Regions from separate parts of the Homo sapiens genome. Here region 2 is linked to region 1. A link means that fine-mapping ties the variant in region 1 to the expression of a gene that starts in the linked region. Tissue or cell type: cerebellum. Region 1 holds a variant in brackets; the other region holds the start of a gene. All regions are shown on one strand. Distances are from middle to middle.

Evidence for each region. PIP is the estimated chance that this variant, and not a neighbour inherited with it, causes the effect.
Region 2: RAB27A starts here. The variant in region 1 is fine-mapped to the expression of RAB27A in cerebellum (GTEx, PIP above 0.99). The same link has a PIP of 0.9 or more in anterior cingulate cortex and nucleus accumbens.

Annotation. Positions count from the first base shown.
Region 1 is chr15:55,390,823-55,398,928 of GRCh38, reverse strand. The region is part of intron 1 of CCPG1 (cell cycle progression 1); the gene reads left to right. The region is part of intron 8 of DNAAF4-CCPG1 (DNAAF4-CCPG1 readthrough (NMD candidate)); the gene reads left to right. Among named protein-coding and RNA genes, the nearest start is that of CCPG1, 13 kb to the left of the region's middle. The variant C/G (reference allele first, on the strand shown) is at 4,102.
Region 2 is chr15:55,286,499-55,294,603 of GRCh38, reverse strand. It overlaps RAB27A (RAB27A, member RAS oncogene family), which reads left to right and starts at 4,791. Exons shown (of 7, transcript NM_183235.3): 1 at 4,791-4,888. RefSeq lists an enhancer at 4,324-4,473 and a silencer at 4,574-5,103.

The sequences.
Region 1 (8,106 bases):
TATTTTCATATGTTTATTAGACAAAAAGTAGCCTTCAAAAAAGTTTTCATGCTGGGCGCAGTGGCTCACACCTGTAATCCCAGCACTTTGGGAGGCCAAGGCAGGCGGATCATGAGGTCAAGAGATCGAGACCATCCTGGCCAACATGGTGAAACCGCATCTCTACTAAAAATACAAAAATTAGCTCGGCATGGTGGTGCGCACCTGTAATCCCAGTTACTTGGGAGGCTGAGGCAGGAGAATCTCTTGAACCCGGAAAGCAGAGGTTGCAGTGAGCCGAGATCGCGCCACTGCTCTCCAGCCTGGAGACAGAGTGAGACTCTGTCTCAAAAAAAAAAAAGTTTTCATTAGTTGGGATCTTGTATCCTCTTCCCTTTCTCAAGTGATGTGTTTTAAAGCAGACATTTTCATATCCTTTGGCGGAGGTGAAAGACCCAGACCTTTTGAAAAGTATTTTACAAATACGTTCTTGAAAGCACTCCAGACTGACTCGCTTATCTTTGGTCACATGACAGTACAGCTGCACTTTGAGGCCTTTGCCTATAGCCTATTGGTTGCCTTACTTCGGAATTGTAGACGTGTGGGAGAATAATGCTCCCATTCTTCTCCATCTTATCTAGTTCTAGAAGATATAATGGTAATGGAAACCTCACCTTTTTCATAGTAAAATGTAGCTACCCAGGAATGATGAGGGGCACCATCATATCAGGTAATATTCATTCCAGTTATATTTTATGAGGTAAAATTGATACTGTTGTTGTGTTGTTCTTACAGATTTTGACAGGCTCCACCAAAGTGTTTTTAAATGACTTATTTAGCCTCTAACTCTCCCCTGAATTCAGTCTCCAGACGCCTACTTTATGTTTCCTCTTGGATGTGATAATAACTATCTCAGATTTAAAATGCCCCAAACCAATTTGCTGGTTTCCTTTTCTTCTTCTTTTTTTTTCTTGAGATGGAGTCTTGTTCTGTCTCCCAGGCTGGAGTGCCGTGGCATAGTCTCGGCTCACTGCAACCTCCACCTCCCGAGTTCAGGCGATTCTCCTGCCTCAGCCTCCCGAGTAGCTGGGACTACAGGCATCCACCAGACCACCTGGCCAATTTTTGTATTTTTAATAGAGACAGGGTTTCACCATGTTGGTCAGGCTGGTCATGAACTCCTTACGTCAAGTGATCTGCCCACCTCGGCCTCCCAAAGTGCTGGGATTACAGGTGTGAGCCACCATGCCCGGCCCAATTTACTGATTTTCTTCTCATAACCTGCTCTTTTTGAAGTCTTTCTGCCTCAGTAGCTATTCCATTCTAGTACTCGGTGAGGCCAGGAGTCATCCTTTATACCCCATATTCAATACATCAGGAAGTCCTGTTGGCTGCTGTACCTTTGAAATCCGTGTATAATCTGTCCATTTCTCACTGTCTTCACTGCCACCATTCTAGTCCAAACCACCATCATGTCTCACCTGGATTATCATAGTAGCCATGCAAATGAACTTCTTGCTTCTGCCTTTGCTCCCCCACAATGCTGTCCCAGTAGGTAGCCAGAGTGATCTTTTATTCCTTTTCTCAAAACGCTTCTGTGACTTTTAGTTCTCAGAGTGTAAAGCTAAAACGCTTTTTAAAAGGAGTCTTAGGATCTGTAAGCCCTACTCAGTCTGTCCCCTTGCCACCACTCTGTTTATTATCTTGTGGGTTTTTTTTTTTGTTTGTTTTTTTTTGAGACGGAGTCTCGCTCTGTCGCCCAGGCTGGAGTGCAGTGGCGCCATCTCGGCTCACTGCAAGCTCCGCCTCCCGGGTTCACGCCATTCTACTGCCTCAGCGTCCGAAGTAGCTGGAACTACAGGCGCCCGCTACCACGCCCGGCTAATCGCCCGGCTAATTTTTTGTGTTTTTTTGTAGAGACAGAGTTTCACTGTGTTAGCCAGGATGGTCTCGATCTCCTGACCTCGTGATCCGCCCACCTCGGCCTGGAGTGCTGGGATTACAGGCGTGAGCCACCGCGCCCGGCTTATCTTGTGTTTAATCTTTTCCTCCTCTCTCCTGCTAGGCGATCCACACAGGCCTCCTTGCTGTTTCTCAGAGGTAGAGCTCTGATCTCAGCTTTATAGCTACTATTTCTTAAATGCTCTTCCTCCAGTTAACTGTATATAATGGTGCCTCACTCATTCAAATCTTTGCTCACATATACTTCAGCAATGAAGCTTGCCCTGACCATCGTTTTTAGAGTTAAGCTTCTCTATCCCAGCATAAATCTATCCCAGAATAAATCTCCTCAAATATTTTACAGGGTTTGACTGTTTTTGTCGACATAAGTCTAAGGTTTTTGACCTGAATGTGTGGTGACTCTTGCTTGTAATGGCTGTATTGTTTTTGGCTACTGCAATTCTGTGAGTTAGCAGAAATAGGAGCAGCAGGAAGATGATTTCAGTATTGTAGCTGTTGTGTGTTAAACACTTGAGAAACCTGCAAGGGGACATCAAAAGCAATTGGAAATATATGACTAGAGATCGAGTTAAAGAAACTACTCTGAGGAATAAAAGGAAGCCTGAGCCTAAACAGAGCTTCAAGTTTATTGTCTTCACAAAGTATTCTTCTTTTTATAACCGTATGATTTCTTAGCCTTTGTAACTGTCCTGTAAATTCTGCTTATTTCTAAATTACTATTAGTAAAGCTCTTAAAATGGGGAGGGTTTATACATTTACCAATGGTCAGATTAATGGGAGAGGAAGCTCATGGATTTCTCCAGAATTTTGAGTTCTTTTTTTTTTTTTTTTTTGGAGGTGGAGTCTTGCTCTGTTGCCCAGGCTGGAGTGCAGTGGTGCGATCTTGGCTCACTGCAACCTCCACCTCCTGGTTTCAAGCAATTCTCCTGACTCAGGCTCCTGAGTAGCTGAGACTACAGGCGCACGCCAGCATGCCCGACTAATTTTTGTATTTTTAGTAGAGATGGGGTTTCACTATGTTGGCCAGGTTGGTCTTTAACTCCTGACCTCCTGATCTGCCTGCCTTGGCCTCCCAAAGTGCTGGGATTACAGGTGTGAGCCACCGCACCCAGCCTAATTTTGAGTTCTGTAAAGAACAATTAACTGCACTATCACCCAGACGTGGTTACCTTTCTTGTTTATTGATTGCTTAATATGTATTTAGCATTCATTCAATATGTGTTGGGAATACATTATAGGCTGGTAAACAAGCAATTACAGCACAATATTCTATATTAAGTGCCAGATGCAGAAAATAATAAGAGTCTTAGGGATGGGGTCAAGGGATGGTTCTCAAAGGAAATGAACCGTTAGCTGAGACAAGCAGAGGAGTTTCGGTGGAGGTAAAGGGGATGGGCAACTGATCAGAATATGTAAAGCCCTGGAGTAAAGACAAAGCCAAGCATTTTGAGGGGAACTGAGAAGGTTGGGCAAAGCGGGAATGAATTAAAAGAGATGAGAGCTAGAGATAAAATACTTGATATTCAAGGCTTTGGGGCATTATCTTGAAGAAAATCTTAACATTTTAAAGGAATTACATAATGAGATTATCATTTGAAGATCTCTAGCTATAATGGGGAGGTTCAAACTGCCAGGGGGCTTTCATATTCACTGTGTCTAGGATAGGGCTTAAAAAGTTACTTTTTTTTTTTTCCTTTGATTGTAGTACACGCCCAACATTTTGAGAACAGTTGAATTAATAGGGTTCTTTAGTAAGCCTGTTAGTTTTGCTTATCCAAATTGTCATGGTGGTGTTAGGGCCAGCGGGAAATCTTTTTCTCTTTTGGGCTGGATGGTGTTACCAAAACACCAGGGGTTTGGTCTAGGTCCTGCTGCTTGCCGCACAGAAAGCCAATCACAGAGACGGGTATTGCCAGGGAAGAAGGCTTTAATTGGGTGCTGCAGCCAAGGACATGGGAGATCAGTCTCAAATCCATCTCAGTCTCAAATCCATCTCTGACTGACTAAAATTAGAGGTCTATATAGCAGAGAAGAAATGTAACCATGTGTGGGCAAACAGGAATTAGAGAGGGGTGAGGAAGAGAAGTTGGTCAACAGGCAGCAGGTGGTCAGTTAAGCAATCATGCAGGCTCTGGCTTCTCATTGTCCAGTTGCAGTGAT[C/G]TGTTAAGTAAGTTTCAGCTTCTTAATACTATCTAGGAGGCCTGATGGTTTGTTTCCTAAGAAAGGAGCTTAGATAACACAAATAGAACTTTCTCAAGTTTTAAGACTGTGAGGATCAATTTCTGTATTTATTCAGAGAAACCATAAAGATCAGTTCTGTGGGATAATTGGCTGGTTTCAATGTTATCTTTCCTTGAAGGAAGTAAACAAAGCATTAAACTGGGGCCTGATTAAAGTGGGCTTATTGATTTGAGAAATTCAAGTATGGTAAGTTGTCCCAAGTCAGTAATGTATTTTACTTTTTTTTGTAATCTGTTAGAAGATGGGAGCAGGCAAAGGGAAGGAGGGAAGCTTTCACACAGTGGAGAAAGAATGCTTTTTAGGCTTCAGCCAGTTTTTCTTATCACAAAGCCCTCACCTACTTCTTGTTTCATATAGAATTCTTCCAGTTACCCAGTCACTTAAACCAGAAACCTGTGAGCTATCCTACACTTTCTCCCTTATATAGTTGGTTATTCAGTCCTTTAATAAAATAATCTTTAGGCTGTGTACAGTGGCTCACACCTGTAATCCCAGCACTTTGGGAGGCCGAGGTGGGTGGATCACTTGAGCCCAGAAGTTTGAGACCAGCCTACCAAACTAGCAAGACCCCGACTCTTAAAAAGAAATTAGCTGGGCAGGGTGGCACATACCTGTATAGTCCTAGCTACTTGGGAGGCTGAGATGGGAGCATCTACTTGAACCTGGGAGTTTGAGGCTGTGTTACTGGTGGAGGGTGTCCAGGTTCTTGGCATCTTGAACAAAGAACTGGACAAAACACACAGACAAAGCAAGGAAGGGATGAAGTCAGAGATTTATTGAAAATGAAAGTACACTCCACAGTGTGGTGGCGGGCCCTAGCGTAGGGGCTCAAGGGCACCGTTATAGAATTTGTGGGGGTTTCAATACCCTCTAGAGGCTTCCATTGGTTACTTGGTGTATACCCTATGTGAATGGAGAGGTGAAGTAAAGTTACAAAGTCATTTACTTGGTGTATGCCCTATGGAGAGGATATTTCCTGTCATAGCTGAAGTGTGAATCGGCCTAATGTTCCCTGCCTCCAGACCCTATTTTCCCATCTCAGCAAGCCGTGTTCATACTACTGTACTCCAGCCTGAGTGACAGAGTGAGACCTTGCATCCAAATAATGATAAAAATAATAAAATAACCTTTCATGTCTTCTCAGATCTCTTCAAAACCCTTCCCGCTATCTTCTAAACCCTTTCCCTCATCAACACTGGTTAAGTTCAGATGCTCATATTTTTCATGGAATATTATGTTGCTTCCTTGCATCCCACAGGTCTAGGGTTGTTGAGTTGCTTCCCTATCTTGAAAAAAAACATTTTTTTGAGACAGGGTCTTGCTCTGTTACCCAGGCTGGAGTGCAGTCATGCAGTCATAGCTCACTGCAACTTTGAACTCCTGAGCTCAAATGATCCTCCTGCCTCGGCTTCCCAAGTAGCTAGGACAACAGGTGTGGGCCACCATGTCCTGCTGATTAAAAAATTTTTTTTGGTAGAGATGGGGAGTCTCACTATGTTGCCCAGCCTGGTCTTGAACGCCTGGCCTCAAGTGATCCTCCCACCTCAGCCTCCGAAAGTGCTGTTACAGGTGCAAGCCGCCACTCTTGGCCCTGCCATCTTAATATATGCTATTTAATTTAATTAATTAATTTATTTATTTTGAGACGGAGTTTCCCTCTTGTTGCCCAGGCTGGAGTGCAATGGCGCCATCTTGGCTCACCGCAACATCCGCCTCCTGGGTTCAAGCAATTCTCCTGCCTCAGCCTCTCGAGTAGCTGGGATTACAGGTGCTTGCCACCATGCCCGGCTAATTTTTTGTATTTTTAGTAGAGACAGGGTTTCATCATCTTTGCCAGGCTGGTGTTGAACTCCTGCCCTTATGATCTACCCGCCTTGGCCTCCCAAAGTGCTGGGATTATAGGCGTGAGCCACTGCACCTGGCCAAATCTGACCAGATACAACCGCTTATGCCTGTCATCCTAGTACTTTGAGAGGCCAAGAAAGGTGGATCACTTGAGCTCAGGAGTGTGAAACCAACCTGGGCAACATGGCAAAACCCTGTCTTTACAAAAAATACAAATATTAGGCATGGTGGCGCACACCTGTAGTTCCAGCTACTCAGGAGGCTGAGGTGGGAGGGTAGCTTGAGCCTGGGAGGTCAAGGCTGCAATGAACTGTGTTCATGTCACTGCCCTCCAGCCTGGGTGACAAAGCGAAATCCTGTCTCAAAAATTAAAAAAAAAATCATGGCCAGGTGCGGTGGCTTCATGCTTGTAATCCCAGCACTTTGGGAGGCTGAGTTGGGTGGATCATGATGTCAGGAGATGGAGAATCTCCTGGCCTTTAGTAGAGATGGTGAAACCCCGTCTCTACTAAAAGTACAAAAATTAGCTGGGCATGGTGGCGCGTGCCTGTAATCCCCGCTACTCGGGAGGCTGAGGCAGGAGAATCGCTTGAACCAGGGAGTCAGAGGTTGTGGTGAGCCGAGATGACGCCACTGCACTCCAGCCTGGTGACAGAGTGAGACTCCGTCTCAAAAAAAAAAAAAAAAAAAATCAAATCTGATCTTTTAAACTATATTTGTACTAGATTGTCTTTTTTATTTTTTATTTTTTTAAAGAACTTTCATATTCTTTTACATTTTTCTGCCTTTGTTTTTCCTGTGTGATGCTTTTTCCTTTTTCACTGGGACATCTTTCCTTGTCATCAGATCTTTTGATTTTTTTTTTTTTTTTTTAGGAATCAGAAATCGTTTTGTTTGTTTTTTGCAATGTTGCCCAGGCTGATCTTGAACTCTTGGACTTGAGCGGTCCTTCCGTCTTGGCCTCTCCGTGTTGGGGTTACAGACGTGAGCTACCACACCTAGCCCCCCCCCCCCTTTTTTTTTTTTTTTAAAGAGTCAAGGTTTCACTGTATTACCCAGTCTGGAGTGCAATGGCAGTTCACAGGCATGATCATTATGGCTCTTAACAGCCTTGAACTCCTGGCCTCAAGGGATCTTCCTTCCTCAGTCTCCCAGGTAGCTGGGATTAATAGGCACTCTCCACTGCTTCCGGCTCCAGAAATCTTCATTTTAATGTAGTATCTCAATTTTTAAATTTTGACAACTGTTAATTTACTTTAAAAAATGCTATCAAATTTGCAGCCTCATTTATAGAGATTTCCTTGATCATTCTCCTTTCCCCCTGCAAATTTAATTGCTCAGTCTTTGTGTATTTCTGTCATTGCATAATTTTCAAGCTATTATAAACATGATTCTCATACAAATAGACATTGATACATATCATAAACTTTTTTGAAAGTCCTGAAAAATAGTGGAATGAGAAATTGGGATTTATATAGTCAGTTTAGGCCAGGTGCAGTGGCTCACGCCTGTAATCCCAGCGCTTTGGGAAGCTGAGGAGGGCGGATTGCTTGAGGCCAGGCCTTCCAGACCAGCCTGGCCAACATGGCCAAACGTTGTCTCTACAAAAAATACAAAAAATTAGCTGGGCATAGTGGCACATGCCCATCTACTTATGGGGCTGAGGCAGGAGGATCGATTGAGCTTGGGAGGTCAGGGTTGTGGTGAGCCATGATTACGCCATTGCACTCAAGCCTGTATGACAGAACGGGACCCTGTCACACTCAAAATAAAGAAAAGAAATATAGTCAGTTTAATAAAGAATGCTGAAATAAAATTGCTAAGATATAAACGTGGTTAATATCCTACAGGGTATTTAAACTGTAGCTTTTTGGATAACCTCTACTGACTGGACAGAAAAAATTTATTTTACCGTAGTAGTTTTCTGTAAGTTTACTTTTAAATTTGTAGAGTTATAAACTGCCTGGGCCTTAATTGAAATTAGAAATAAAACAATTAGATGACCTCAGGTGAGCCTATTACAAAATGCTCTTGTCATAACATTAAAAGTCATACAATTGATACCTTATTTCAGGTTTT
Region 2 (8,105 bases), 100 kb after region 1:
TTTTTTTTTTTTTTCGGAGACAGGGTTTTGTTCTGTTGCCCAGGCTGGTGTGTAGTGGCACGATCTTGGCTCACTGCAACCTCCGCTTCCTGGGCTCAAGCGATCCTCCCATCTCAGCTTCCCGAGTAGTTGGGACTACAGGTGCAAGCCACCACGTCTGGCTAATTTTTCTATTTTTAGTAGAGACAGGGTTTCACCATGTTGCCCAGTTGGGTCTGGAATTCCTGAGCTCAAGGGCTCTACCTATGTTGGCCTCCCAAAGTATTGAAATTACAGGCGTGAGCTACCGCGCCAGGCCTCAGTTTCATTCTTTTGCATGTAGATATCCAGTTCTCCCAGTACCATTTGCTGAGGAAACTTCTTTCTCCATTGAAAGATCTTGACTATAGATGCATAATTTTATTTCTAGACTCTCAAGCCTATTCCACTTATCTATATGTCTTTATATCAATACCATAGGTTTTTTTTTTAATTACTATACCTTTGTAGTACATTTTGAAATCAGGAAGCATGAACTTTTTAAATTTTTGGGTCCTTTGCAATTTCATATGCATTTTAGCATACACTTTTCCATTTCTTCAAAAATGTTGTTGAATCTGTAGCTCTATCTGGGGAATATAGCCATCTTCACAATATTATGTGTTTGATTCCATGAACATTAAATGTATTTTCTTTTCTTTTTTTTTTATCTGAGAAGTTTCACTCATCACCCAAGCTGGAGTGCAGTTGCACGATCTCGGCTTACTGCAACCTCCACCTCCCGGGTTCAAGCAATTCTCCCGCTTCAACCACCCGAGTAGCTGGGATTACAGGCACCCACCACCACGCCCGGCTAAATTTTGTATTTTTAGTAGAGACGGGTTTCGCCAAGTTGGCCAGGCTGGTCTCAAACTCCTGACCTCAGGTAATCCACCCGCCTCAGCCTCCCAAAGTGCTGGGATTACAAGCGTGAGCCACCGCGCCTGGCCATGTCTTTTCATTTATTTAGATTTTCTTTTTTTTTCAGTAGTGGTTTGTGGTTTTCAATGTATAAATCCTGCACCTTCTTGGTTAAATTTATGCCTAGGTATTTTATTCTTTTTGATATTATTGTAAATGGAACTTTTAAAGTTTCCTTTTCAATTGTTCATTTCTAATACATTGAAATGCAACTGATTTTTATGTGTTGATCTAGTATCTTGCATCTTTGCTTATTTCATTTATTAGCACTAATAGATTTTTTATTTAGGATTTTCCATATATAATATTATGTAATTGGTTCCTTTTGTTGGAAAGGGATATTAAGAAATCAACATCCAGGTGCTAAGTGTACTCGTAGCTACTTTGATATAATTGCTTCTAGGACCTCTTAGCAGACAGAGCTAGATAATACATACATATACACATACATATATCTATATTTATTTATTAAAATCCATGAATTCTTACTGATTCCATCCACTTTAATTCTATTAGGAAAACTGGAGGCAGAACTCTCCATGTTGCAAGTAGCAGTGTCAGAAAAGCCCCAGTGTGGGAAGCAAGAGGTATACTGTGATCGATTCTGTGGCTGCAGTAAGAAGTGGCGTAGAGATGACTTTGAACTGACACACGAGATGTGTTCAGTGTACTTAGTTTCTGTAATAACACTCTCCTTGTTTTCTTCCTACCTCTCTGGATACTCTTTTTTTGGATTCCTTTTTGAACTTCCATTGCTCATGCCTTAAATGCTGGGTGTTCATCTGGGTTCTGTAACAAGCCTATTGCCCTCTCAGCTCACTTTCTAGATTAGCTCATTGATTCTAATGCCTTCCAGTACCTTTTGGGTAATAGCTACAGCACATGTTTTCTGTGCTTCAGATAGGCCTGTTTGACTACATACTAAACAGCTTCACTTGGATATTCTGTTGGTGCTAGTGTGTCAAAATGGAAATGTCCTAAACTCATCACTATGGCCTATTTCACCCTTCCTCCTGGTTGCAACTAGGTTTTCTTCCTGTTGCTTAATGGTTTCTTGTTGCCCAAACCAGAAACTGGGCATCCCCATGGACTACTGCCTCTCTTTCACACCCCTACATCCCAGTCCTCTTGATTCACTCTCCTAAATATGTCAAATATGTCCATTCATCTCCATCCTTATGGCCACTGCCGTAATCAGATCGCTATTATCCCTCACTTGGATTACAGCGTGCTAATTGACCTCTCAGACCCATTCTTAGAACCATTAAAAACTTGAGTTCTGAGTTTTAGGCCTGGCTGTGCCACTTATTAGCTGCATGATCTTGGTCAGACTGCTTAATCGCTTTAGGACTCAGTTTCCTCATCTGTAATACAGAGGTAAGAATAGTACCTACTTCATAAAGTAGTTGTAAGACACGTATGAGGTGATGTAGTCAAAACTATTAGCATATTGGCTGACTCATAGTAAATGATCAAGAAATGTTAGTTATGATCATGATCATCATTGCAGGGTTATTCACCGCACAGCCTCTGTTATTTCTCCATTTTCTTTTCTGATTGCTTTCAGTCTTTCAGCTTTTCTGAACCTCTTCCTGTTGCTCCAGTGTTGAATGCTATCTTTTGCTTCCAGGCCTTCCCTCTGCTCCATTTTCCTGGAATTCTCTTCTCCCTTGCCCCTTGCCCTCATTCATTCTAAGTTTATCCTTAACTTTCTCTTGATTTGGTGTCATTTATCTGTGCTCCAATAACACTCTTTAACTTCCTTTATTGAGGCTCTTATCTCACTACTGGAGTTGCCTACTTATTCGATGGTCTCTCAAGTAAGTCCTGACGTCAGGGACCAGTTTACCTTGTTTACTAATAGGGTGCCTGACTTGATGAATGAGTGAATGAATGGGTGATGAATGGGCCATAGCACCATCCTAGGTTTTCTGATCTCCTGTCTGGTATACTCCTGGTGAGAGCCTTGCCTGGCCACAGGAGTGGGGAAAGCTGAAGGCAGGCTTTCCCTGTGCCATATCAGCCATTAGCAATTACTACATTATTGGTTTCCCAGATTTTAGCTGATCAGTGATTCCCAGGACTATTCCTCTGGACATGAACATGAGGCTACCTTTTCCCTTTTTTTTTTTTTTTTTTTTTTTTTTTTTTTTTGAAACAGAGTCTCGCTCGGTCGCCCAGGCTGGAGTGCAGTGGCGCCATCTCGGCTCATTGCAACCTCCACCTCTCGGGTTCAAGCGATTCTCCTGCCCTCAGCCTCCTAAGTAGCTGAGACTACAGGCGCGTGCCACGACGCCCTGCTAATTTTTTGTATTTTTAGTAGAGACGGGGTTTCACCGTGTTAGCCAGGATGGTCTCGATCTCCTGACTTCGTGATCTGCCGGCCTCGGGCTCCCAAAGTGCTGGGATTACAGGCGTGAGCCACCTAACCCGGCCTTTTTCTCTCTTAACCTCACCAACAGTCTGATGGCCCTTCTCTCACACGGGAAGAGCTCTTGAAGTTATCAACCTGTTAGGACATTTGTTATCTCTAAACCCGAGTTTACTGTGTTATGTTTGCCTGGAAATGTTATATCAAATGTATGAAATTGCCAACTGTTTGTAATTTCATATGGTTCATCCTATATGTGATTTTGTAAATTGGACCCACCTGAGAAGCTAACTGCTGTAATGCCAACTGTGAGTAGCTACAGACTGGAAAGGTGATGGAGTTGACCGGGTGGGCCTGCGACAGCTGGAATTTGCGGTGGAGGTAGACACAAGTCAGCGAGACGGCTTAGAAGGCAGAAGGGAAGCTGAACTAAGGCTTCTCAACATTTTACTCTGCTTAGAAGTGGAAACATTTGGTTCAAAGGGCCTTTGCCTTAGACTCCATAGGGACAGGCCCAAGGGCTGCTGTTCACACCTCCTGGCCACTGAGAGGGATGAACTTGGCTGCCTCTGAGTGGGAACCACGAGGTCTGACCCCCTACGCAGTCCCAGGTTCACTACCCCGCAGGCCGGAGCGACACCGTTGGCGCTGGGAGAAGAGAGCCGCTGGGTGGCAGCAAAGGCGCGCAGGTTTCTTCCGACAGAGGCGGTTCCTTAACATACTGTAGTTTTCTTCTTTTTAAACTCATTGCTCTAACACTCTTAGAAATTTACAGTGGTTTTATATTCTTGAATTACACAGTGTGAGCAGAGACTCCGTTTGCCATTTCCTCCCGGAATTACATTGATTTTTTTCCTGCGAAATTTTTTACTTATTTTTCTCCCATGTTATTTCCAGGAATCCTGGGCATTCCCTTGCCCCGGAAACGCCGTGTCCAGGCCGACCTAAGCCAGGAGCCGCAGGGGCGGGAAGCCGGGGGCAGGGCCGGGCCTGGGACGCCGCCTCAGGAGCCGCGCGGACTCGGGAACCTCGGGCGGGGCCGGCGTGAGTACGCCCGGCACCTCCGGCTGCTACGGTGGCGACCGCGAACTGATGCCGTGGAAAACACCCTTAGAACATGGCTTTTTGGGGAGGTGAATAGGGGAGAGTCCCCAAACGACACCTCGCCGCGCACCGGTCCTTGGTGCAGTTTGTAAATGTCCCTCCTGTGTCCCAAAACGAAAACACTCCTATATTTTGTAGCGCCTTCCAGAATGGGGCAGCGGAAACTAGTGTTGGGACAAAGGAGGCGAGCGGGGCCTTTTCGGGGCTCACAGAGGACCCCTCGGAGGCGCGGCCGCCGGGGAGAGCGCGACAGCACCCCGCCCCCCGCCAGCCGGGCGGGGGCCGCTCCCGAGGTGACAGGAGAAGGCGGGAGGTGGAGGAGAGAAGGTCCCGCCCCACCTCGCTCTCCTTTACGGGAAGTGATGTGGGGCCAGGCGGAAAATACCCGCCAACGACCCAAAAAAGGCCGGCGGCGGGTGGACGCGGCGCGCGAGGACCCGAGCCAGGCGGGGACAGGACGGCGGGGCGAGCCAGGTGAGGGGGCCTGAGGAGCGGGAGGCGCGCGGCGGGTCCGGTCCCTCCGGGAGGGCCGAGCGAGGCGTCCCCCTGGGGCCGTCCTAGGGCTGGGGTCCGAGTGCGCCGCCCTTCCTCCCCGCCTCCAGGCGCCCGAGCCCGCCTGAAGAGTGGCTTCTCTCCCAGGCCCTCAGCGCAGACCCCAGTGATGACAACTGCCTGGTGCTGGCCAGGTGCGGTCCCAGGTCCGGCCAGGGTCTCAGATCGCCTCCGGGTTGCATCCAGGTGGGAGGATGCCCATCAGGGGTAGGAAACTTTCCAGGAGGGAAAGGAGGAAAGTCCCCGACCTCCCGCACGCCCCCCGGTTCATTCCTCCCTCTTTTGCTTTCAGTTTAACTGTTTAACCTGGTTGCCCTCCGGTTGGTGAGGGTCTGGACTGCAGACTAGCTGCGAGGGAGGGGCTCTCTCTTCTCCTGTCAGTTAGACTGAAAACTACCTGGCAGCCAGGCCCTCCGGTCGGGACTGGTGGTGGTGCAGATATGATGACAGGCTTTGGTAACTATTGCCAAAGCCTGTCTCTGTCCCAATAGATCACCAGTTCAGCAAAGTCAGGCCTGAAGCGAAGGGAGTCTTGTGAGCCCTGGACTGAGGAGCCTTCCCAGCCTTTCCGCTCCTGCTGGCCACCTGGGCCCACATGGCCTCAGGGTCTTCTGCCACAGGGTCCTTACCCCTACAGCTTAACAGCTGTTCTTTCCTTCTGGATGGATTCTCACATTTTATGGTTGGTTGATCAGTCAGATGTTGGAATTGGGGGTAGAGGGATTATAGAGTTGTGTGTGCTATTTAAGTTTTCTGTAATCATTGCTAATTAAATTTGTTGATTCTCCACTCACTGTTCTTGTTCTTTTTTTTTTTTCGGCCTTAAAAACTTGCTTTAGAGGGAAAATACAATCTGGAAAACAGTTTCTGCAGATGGTTAGAAGTGAAGAAAGGTTAATATAATGCTGAAGGAACTTGACTGAGGATCATTATTTTCTGTATTTTATGTTGGTTTATGTTGTTTTATGTTTTCATTCCTACTTTTTTCTTCCTTCCTTTCTACCATTCTCTCTTCCTCCCTCCCTCCCTTTTTTCTTCCTTCCTTAATTTCTGTGACGTGCCTTGATTTTTAATTTCGTTGAAGTATATTTAATCTATTTTTCCTTTTTTTTCTTTTGAGACAGAGTCTCACTCTGTCGCCCAGGTAGGAATGCGGTGGCATGATCTTGGCTCACAGCAACCTCCGCTTCCTGGGTTGAAGTGATTCTTTTGCTTCAGACTCCAGAGTAGCTGGAATTACAGGTGTGTGCTACCATGCTTGGCTAATTTTTGTATTTTTAGTAGAGGCGGGGTTTTGCTATGTTGGCCAGGCTGGTCTTGAACTCCTGACCTCAAGTGATCAACCTGCGTCAGCCTCCCAAAGTGCTGGGATTATAGGCTTGAGCCACTGCACCGAGCCTATTTTTCCTTTTGTTGTTTGTGCTTTTGATGTCAAAGTTAAGAAAACATTGTCAAATTCAAGATCATGAAGATTTATACTTATGTTTTCTTCTAAAAGTTTTATAGTTTTTAGCTCTTACATTTCATTCTTTGACCCATTTTAAGTTAATTTTTAAATATGGTGTGAGGCAGGGGGTCTGACTTCAACTTTTTGCATGTGGATATCCAGTTCTTTCAGCACCATTTGTTTAAAAGACTGTTCCTCTTTGAATAGTTTTGGCACCTCTGTTGAGATAAATTGACCATGAATGTAAAGGTTTATTTCTGGACTGTCAGTTCTATTCCATTGATCTGTATGTCTGTCCTCAGGCTAGTATCATACTACCTTGATTATTGTAGCTACATAGTGTTTTGAAATCAGGATATGTGAGTCCTCCAACCTTGTTCTTTTTCAAGATTGTTTTGACTATCCAGTCCCTTGAATTTCCATATGAATTTTTTTTTTTTTTCGAGATGGAGTTTTGCTCTTATTTACCAGGCTGGAGTGCAATGGCACGATCTCAGCTCACTGCAACCTCCGCCTCCCTGGTTCAAGTGATTCTCCTGCCTCATCCTCCTGAGTAGCTGGGATTACGGGCATGTGCCACCATGCCTGGCTAATTTTATATTTTTAGTAGAGACAGGGTTTCTCCATGTTGGTCAGGCTGGTCTCGGACTCCCGATCTCAGGTGATCTGTCTGCCTCAGCCTCCCAAAGTGCTGTGATCATAGGCATGAGCCACCATGCCTGGCCTTCCACATGAAATTTAAAGTCAGCTTCTCAATTTCTATTGTTTTGGTTCTAAAATAGATGTAAGGGTTTTAAAGTGAGCAACAATCTCTAGGAGCCAGATTTTTGAGTTTTCTCTCCCAAAGCTGCTTTTCCCCTAGTCTTCTCCATCTTAGTGAATGGCAACTTCACTCTTCCAGATGCTCACACCAAACACCCTGAAATCACTCTTGATTCTTTCTCTTATACCCCACATTAAATTCCTCAGCAGGCCGGGTGCGGTGGCTCACGCCTGTAATCGCAGCACTTTGGGAGGCCGAGACAGGTGGATCACGTGAGGTCAGGAGTTCAAGACCAGGCTGGCCAACATGGTGAAGCCCTGTATCTACTAAAAATACAAAAATTAGCGGGGCGTGGTGGTGGGTGCCTGTAATCACAGCTACTCAGGAGGCTGAGGCAGGAGAATCGCTTGAACCCAGGAGGCGGAGGTTGCAGTGAGCTAAGATCGTGCCATTGCACTCCAGCCTGGGCGACAGAGTGTGAGTCCGTCTCAAAAAAAAAAAAAAAAAAAAAAAAAGAATACATCTAGGATGATAACCATTTCTCACCACTTCTGCTGCTTCCACCAAGTTCTATCATCTCTGTCACCTGGATTACTGCAAAAGCCTTCTGAAGGGCTTCCCTGCTTCCACCCTTACTGCTCCACACTCTATTCTTAACACAGCAGCCAGAGTCTATTATGTCACTCTGCTTGAAACTCTCCAGTGGCTTTTTATCTCAGAAGTGACAGAGTCCTCACCATGGTCTATACAACCCTTGCATGGAGTGCGGCTTCATCTGCTATCACTCTTGCCTTTGCTGACTCTGCTCCAGCCATACCTCAGGACCTTTGCACTTGTTTCCTCTGCCTGGAATGCTCTTCCCCTCAGATGTCTGCATGGCTTTCTTATTTATTTCATTCAGGTGAAAAGTCATTTTTCTGGAGAGGCCT